2 linked regions of the Homo sapiens genome follow. The protein of the gene in region 2 purifies or fractionates together with the protein of the main gene of each other region. This does not show direct contact. Each region holds a gene or a part of one and is shown on either strand. Other genes may lie near its edges.

The links.
Region 1: the proteins of GDF11 (region 2) and IGDCC4 purify together in Homo sapiens (affinity purification with mass spectrometry; one large-scale study listed by BioGRID and IntAct). This does not show direct contact.

Annotation. Positions count from the first base shown.
Region 1 is NC_000015.10:65,412,948-65,416,447, forward strand, and holds part of IGDCC4 (immunoglobulin superfamily DCC subclass member 4 precursor), read right to left. Parts: intron 2,904-3,500; exon of another isoform or gene 2,381-2,903; intron 1-2,380.
Region 2 is NC_000012.12:55,749,622-55,753,121, forward strand, and holds part of GDF11 (growth/differentiation factor 11 preproprotein), read left to right. Parts: coding exon 1-261; 3' UTR 262-3,500. UniProt on the Homo sapiens protein: Secreted signal that acts globally to regulate anterior/posterior axial patterning during development. May play critical roles in patterning both mesodermal and neural tissues. It is required for proper vertebral patterning and orofacial development.

The DNA.
Region 1 (3,500 bases), on a different chromosome or scaffold from region 2:
CACACACACACACACACACAGGCTAGAAAAATACCATATCCAAGAAACATTTAAAATGTATTATAAGTGTGAGAAAATGTGTGTGTGTGTGTGTGTGTGTGTGTGTGTGTGTGAATACTATATATTTTGAATGAACAAAACAAAAATAAGTCCCAGCTGTTTGGGGGAGCCACCTGGATGAAGGAAAGTCAGACATTCCCCCTTCCCCAACAATGAACTAAGTGAGCAGATCCTGCTGGGAATTGTTAAGTGCCCCAGGTAGGGACTAGACTCAAGCTGGATTCAGACCCAGCATGAGAGGAGGCTCACATGGCTCATTCCAGGCCCTGGCAGCCCACAGCCTGGTCTGTACTGGTGACTGGAGAAGCTCAACACTCCCTGCAGCTAATTTCCCCAAGGCCATGCAGGAGGCCAGAGCCAGGACTCAGGTCTCCTGACTCAATCCAGGGTTCTTTTTTCTCCCAAGGCCCCAGAGGAACCTACAGACCCCAACACTGCCCTTGCCACAAAGGGAAGAGTAGGGAAACAGTAGAGGAAGGGAATGCCATCCCAGGGTCAAGGCAAAAACACACAAAAGCCAATGTTTATTATTGGAACCAATGTTCTGCAGGGCCCAGCCACCATTATTCATAGACAAATGGTTGGTTCTCCCTGTTGTGTCTTCCAGAAGGTTGACCTGCTGCCTCCTTGTCTTATAAAAGCTCAATGGCCCAAGGTCCCTTCTTAGGCTCTGGTCTGACTCCTTACTTTAAGGCAGAATGGCATGTCTGAGAGGAACCAGGGCCAGAGGTCAGGACAATGGCCCATACTCATCACAAGGCAGGTCTGGGCTGACAGAGCCACGTGGGGACGTGCACAAAACAATGGCGAGGGAATCAGGAGACCCTCGGTTCTAGATCCAGCTCCATCACAGTCTAGCCATGTGGTTTTGGCCCAGTCATTTCCCCTTCTGGGCCCCAGCTCACTGGAATGTAGCAGGTGACCTCTGAGATGCTATGATTCTATGATTATTCACGACATGGACACACCTATTCCTGAACAAACATAAAACACCATTGAGACCACACACAAATTGGTAAACATAGCTCTGCACTCCTAAACACATGCGCCTCAGTCTCTGCCACACTCATCAACACTTGGACACACAGGTCAACATTTAGAAGCCCTGTGAGTCTCCAGACTCCCTTCCCACCAGCTCCAAAGAGGAACAAGAGTGAGGGGAGAAGAGCAGTGATGGCTGCGTGAAATAAGGAGGCCAGGGCCTGGGATTGCAGTGTGAAGGGCGGACGGAGAGACAGGACCTGACCTGGGCTGCTGCCTTTCTTAATTCATCAGATGGTTTCTGCTGGACACCTCTGGCTTCACAACTAGTCTCAGCAGTACTCGCGGGCTCAGCAGGGAGAAGCAGCCCCTGCCCTCACCAAGTTTGCATTCTAGTTGGGGAAACCAATCTGGCATTCACACTACTGCGGGCCACGTGCTGTGGTGGAAACAGCTTTTGACCTTGGGGAAGAAGATCAAGGTTTCAGTCTTGCTGCTCCACCTACCAGCTCTGTGACAAGCCACTTAACTTTTCTGGGACTCAGTTTCCACATGAAGATGATACCACTAAGCGTGAAGGAATTAAACAAGACAATGTATGTCAGGGCTACAGCCCAGAGCCTAATAGACATCACTCAAGGAATGGGAGCTTATTCTTTGTTTGTTTGTTCTTGCGACAGTTGTGCTCTGTTGCCCAGGCTGGAGTACAGTGACATGATCTCAGCTCACTGCAACCTCCACCTCCTGGGTTCATATGATTCTCCAGCCTCAGCCTCCTATGTAGCTGGGATTACAGGCATGCGCCATCACACCTGACTAATTTTTGTATTCTTAGTAGAGACAGGGTTTCACCATTTTGGCCAGGCTGGTCTTGAACTGCTGACCTCAAGTGATCTGCCTGCCTTGGCTCTGGAAGATCACGCCTTGGCTCTGGAAGATCCAGTGCTCTGGAAGAGCACATCCAAAGTGCTGGAATTACAGGCATGAGCTACCATGCCCGGCGGGGAGCTTATTCTTTAAAGGCACTTTGTAACTATAAAGGGCTGTACAAGTGCTATTTGCTGTTCTTATCATCCAGTCCCTTCTATCTCTAAGGCCCTAGATGCCATGATTCAAGTACAGGGTAGGAGGAAGGCAAGCCCGGCTCTCAGTCCAGTGGCTTCCAAATGCCCATTCCAGCCACTAAGCAGTAGGTTTGGGTTTCAGGGGAGAAAACCCCCAAAGGACACAAATCCCTGAGCCCTCCGGCAGCCTCCCTGCCCCCTAAAGCATGTCCCAGGCTTGGAAAATCCCCTGCTGCGTTGAACAAACAATGTGAACAGTTGGGGCCCGAGCAGCTGCTGGGTATGTCAGCAGCCTGGGCTCTGGCAGGCAGGACGGCCGCCAGAGGGGCTGGCGGCTGGCTGGGGAGCCCAGAGGAGGCTCCGATTCCCTTCCTGAATATTCATGGATCAGCAGATGTCTGGCTTCCCCACCTCTGAGGAGCTCAGCAAGGCAGGAACAGGGAAAGCAACAGGAACGTAGACACAGAGAGAAGACGGGGTCCCCCTCAGAGAGCAGCAGTGCTGTGCCAGGAGCCCAAGACAGCCCATTTTAGTGGAAACGTCTGTGAAGCCTGAGAATCCTCATTCCACAGATGGGGAAACTGAGGCCTGGGGAGGGGTCTCATCTCTGTGGAAGACAGTCTGGGAAAACTGCCCTTCTTTGACTTTTTGGGGATGAACCAGCATTGAGGAGACAACTGCTCCTGAATAAGAGGGTTCTCTCTGCCTCTGTGCTCAACCTGATTTCTGTGCCCAGGAAGCGCATCCTTAGGGACTCACGTGCCAGCCCTTCTGTGAGGCTGCTCCTACCTTCCCCAGGTAAAGTTTTTCCTAAGTCTCACACTGAAAACCACTTGCAGGTCCCTTACTCTTGCCTAGACAGACAAGGGGGTGTGGTGGGACAAGCCTGGCCTCAGAGTCCTGGGTTCTAAGTCCAGTCATTCATTGCATGACCTTGTGTGAGCTACTTTTGTCCTTTCAGCCTCAGTTTCCCCAATTTTAAAATGAGAAGTCTCCAAACTTCTCAAACGTTTTCACCCAAATTCTCTCAACAGCAGAGGAACACATATTTACGAGGCTCGCTGACTGCCTAAAATGTTTTGACTTTTTTTTTTTTTTTTTTTTTTTTTGAGACTCGCTCTGTCACCCAGGCTGGAGTGTAGTGGCGCAATCTCGGCTCACTGCAAGCTCCGCCTCCCGGGTTCGAGACATTCTCCTGCCTCAGCCTCCCGAGTAGCTGGGACTGCAGGCGCCCGCCACCATACCCAGCTAATTTTTTGTATTTTTAGTAGAGACGGGGTTTCACCGTGTTAGCCAGGATGGTCTCAATCTCCTGACTTCGTGATCCGCCCGCCTCGGCCTTCCAAAGTGCTGGGATTACAGGCATGAGCCACCGCGCCCGGCCAAACCTCTAGC
Region 2 (3,500 bases):
TTTGAGGCTTTCGGCTGGGACTGGATCATCGCACCTAAGCGCTACAAGGCCAACTACTGCTCCGGCCAGTGCGAGTACATGTTCATGCAAAAATATCCGCATACCCATTTGGTGCAGCAGGCCAATCCAAGAGGCTCTGCTGGGCCCTGTTGTACCCCCACCAAGATGTCCCCAATCAACATGCTCTACTTCAATGACAAGCAGCAGATTATCTACGGCAAGATCCCTGGCATGGTGGTGGATCGCTGTGGCTGCTCTTAAGGTGGGGGATAGAGGATGCCTCCCCCACAGACCCTACCCCAAGACCCCTAGCCCTGCCCCCATCCCCCCAAGCCCTAGAGCTCCCTCCACTCTTCCCGCGAACATCACACCGTTCCCCGACCAAGCCGTGTGCAATACAACAGAGGGAGGCAGGTGGGAATTGAGGGTGAGGGGTTTGGGGGAAAGGGGAAGCAGGGGCATAGTCAGGGTGGGGAGTGTTTGAAGTTTGCAGATGAGAAGGTTTGACAAAAAGACAGAGAGATGTAGAGACAGTGATAGAGACAGAGGAACAAAAAGAGCAGCAGTGAGAAGGCAAAGAGAGAGGCAGAAGAGACAGACGAGGCAGAGACAAAACACTGAGAAAGAGACTGAAATGGAGTAATAAATGAAAGCCCCACACCAAGCCTCCTTTCTTCCACTGGCAAGGTGAGGGGCTTGGTATAGTTTGGGGAGATCCCCTGACTATTCAGTAGGAGAAGAAATCAAAAATCCATTCTTTTCTCCTTCTCTCCCTCCAACAGTGGCCAGGGGAAGGGGAAGTGAGGGCAGGGGCAAAAAGATTTGGGAATTTTTATTTATTTATTTATTGTGACTTTTCATTTTTTTGGTATTTGGCTTTACTGGAATAGGAGGGCCCCTGCCCACTGTGCCCCGTTTATCCCTTATTCCCCAAACCCTGCTCTCCCCAACACCTACTCACTTAAGCACTTGTATAAAGCCTCCAGGGTTGGGAATGGGAGTAAAGGGCAAGAGGGCGGACACATGAAGTTTAGTTTCTAACCCATCATCACCCTAACTCAACCTTTTCTGAGCCAAATGGCTTGAATTGAAGCCAGTTGTCATGGAAATAGTAAGAGGTTAGGGTTTAAGAGCTGGGGATGCGGGGGTGGGAGAGAGAACCCTCAACATCCAGGATCTATATAATGAGAGCTACTTTAAACCCTCAGGTCCACCCTCATGATGCTGAGTTATTTAGCCAGAGGGTGCAGCCTGCTTATGCCCAAATTCCCTCAGCCAAGAGAGAGACCAAAGAGCCTCTGGAATGGCCCTGCTCCCAGCCTCTATCTTCAGGTCAATTAGAGAGAGTATAGAGACCCCAGAGTCCCCTGGGTCTGGAAAGCGTTAGGAGAGGTCAAGAAAGGAGCAGTAAGGAGGCTGAAGGTTACAGGGCATTTGAATCCAAATCACTGCTCTGGGCTAGGGAATAGAGCCAGCAGACCAAGGTGGGAAGGATTCTGGAAGGGGGACATTTTAGTCTCCTAACCCCAAAGCTCAGGGTGGAAGAGGGGAGAACAAGGAAGCAGAGTGTATAATTATTTTTTCCTTTTATTTTTGGAATCTAACAGTACCTGGCAGCAGGGAGGGGAAAGTACAGTGGGGAAAAGCATCTGACAAGGCCAGTTAGAACAGAGGATGGGAAGGATGGAGACTCCCGGGCTTGGAAGGCTAGGAAGCAGGCAGAGACTGGTTGCCATTTCAAGTCACTAGCTAGGCCCATTCATTCCTCCCACAACCCTGACCCATTCTCCTCTGGACTCACTGTGCCTCAGTTTCTTCCCCTCAATGGAATGAGAAATGACAGCACCCGCCACAGCCAAGAGATGAATTCTGAGCACTTACCACGGGCACTTTATGGACATAAAATACCTCTCGCTGTGGGACAGATAACCAGGGCACCAGAGTAGTGGTGAAGAGATGTGAGGCTTAAGAGGAGTCACAGGCTTCAGAGTACAAGTTCCCCTCTGCCTCCCAGCTGGACAGTGCCTAGAAGCCAAGGAGTTGAGAATCTCCTGATCCACACCCTATCCTTACTTCACCACCAGGCCTCTTGGCTCCAGGCAAGAGCTTAGAGGATGTCAGGAGAGGTGGGGGTAAGAATCTTCAGCAAAACTGTCACTCTAAGTAGAGCCAGCAGTTACGGGTCTGATAAAAACAGTACTGAACTAAAGTAAAGCCCAAGCTGGTGAGCAAAACTGGATGGCTCATTCTTCCCAAGAGCATGACTCTCCCCCTTGGCCAGTTGGTGGAAGGGGCAAAGGTATGTGACCACCCTTGAGAAGGTGATGTTGGTGAGCTTTAACATCTTATTCCTATTCTTATAGTGAGAAAGTGAAACAAGATCTTTCAGTAGAGGAATGGGCAGGGCTGTTAGGCTCTTCAGCTTGCCTTCACCCATATAGCAGCTATGCTAACCCCAAGCCTCTCTGGCCCTGTTCTTCATCCTTCCTTCTGCCCCAATCCTGAAGGACAAGACACACCCGGCCATCAACACCACTCACATTTCCTTGGTGGAAGGAAAGGAACAGAGAAGTGAAGAACAGATACCTCCCTCCAAGGTCAAATGCCTCGTGATCTTGGCAGAGTAGGGATTGGGCAATAAGCATCAGGTATCTTCCCTCTACAGATTCTAGAGAGCTGGGGCATTAAATATGGGGGACACTTAGAATACAGCTCCTTAAATACCACCAAATAAAGACCTTTGTGTGTGTGTGGTGGGTGGGGGGGGGGCAGGGGTCTTTCTCTTATGAACATAAATCTGTGAGCTGAAGTCTCATTCCCCTGTTCCTCCCTACCCCCAAAGAGGCACAGAGTGAAGGGACTTGGGGGGCACAGCTCAGCAACCCAGTGGGAGTTAGCACCCCCTCCCACCTTATGATGTGTGTGGACCTGGCCAGTGCCCCTCTGAACATATCATTATTAGTGTAATTATCATTTATTTTGTGTATTTGTCACATTGTGTGCATGACAGCCTTTGTTAAGGGTGTCTGAGGAGTATGGAGCTGACAGGGGCATTGGAATGCCAGGAAAGAACTTCTTCAACTGAGATCAAGGCTTCCTGGAGGGAACCACTGCAAAAAGGCCATCAGGCAGTTTTCAAGTTATGTGACAGAGGGCAAAGACGGCCATAGGGTGCTCTGAGTTTTGGGATGGTCACATGACACAATCCAGCACTTGAACCTGAAAAAAAAAATAAAAGCGGTCAAAGAGTTTAGAATTCAGTGCTGAGCTCTTCTCCCTAATCAAGTGCCACATTTACACCTTGGAGAACCGGAGGTGAAGAGGATCTGAGACAGGAAACCTCGTGTTCAATGACTAAGAAGATGGGGTCCTGGAGCAAGACAGAAAACACTAAGGGCATGGTGGTATAAGGTTTGGGACATGCAGGCCAAGGAAGGATGGAAAGAGGACAGGAAACTGGGGGTACCTAGAACAACCCCTCTCTGAAAAGCTTGAGCCAA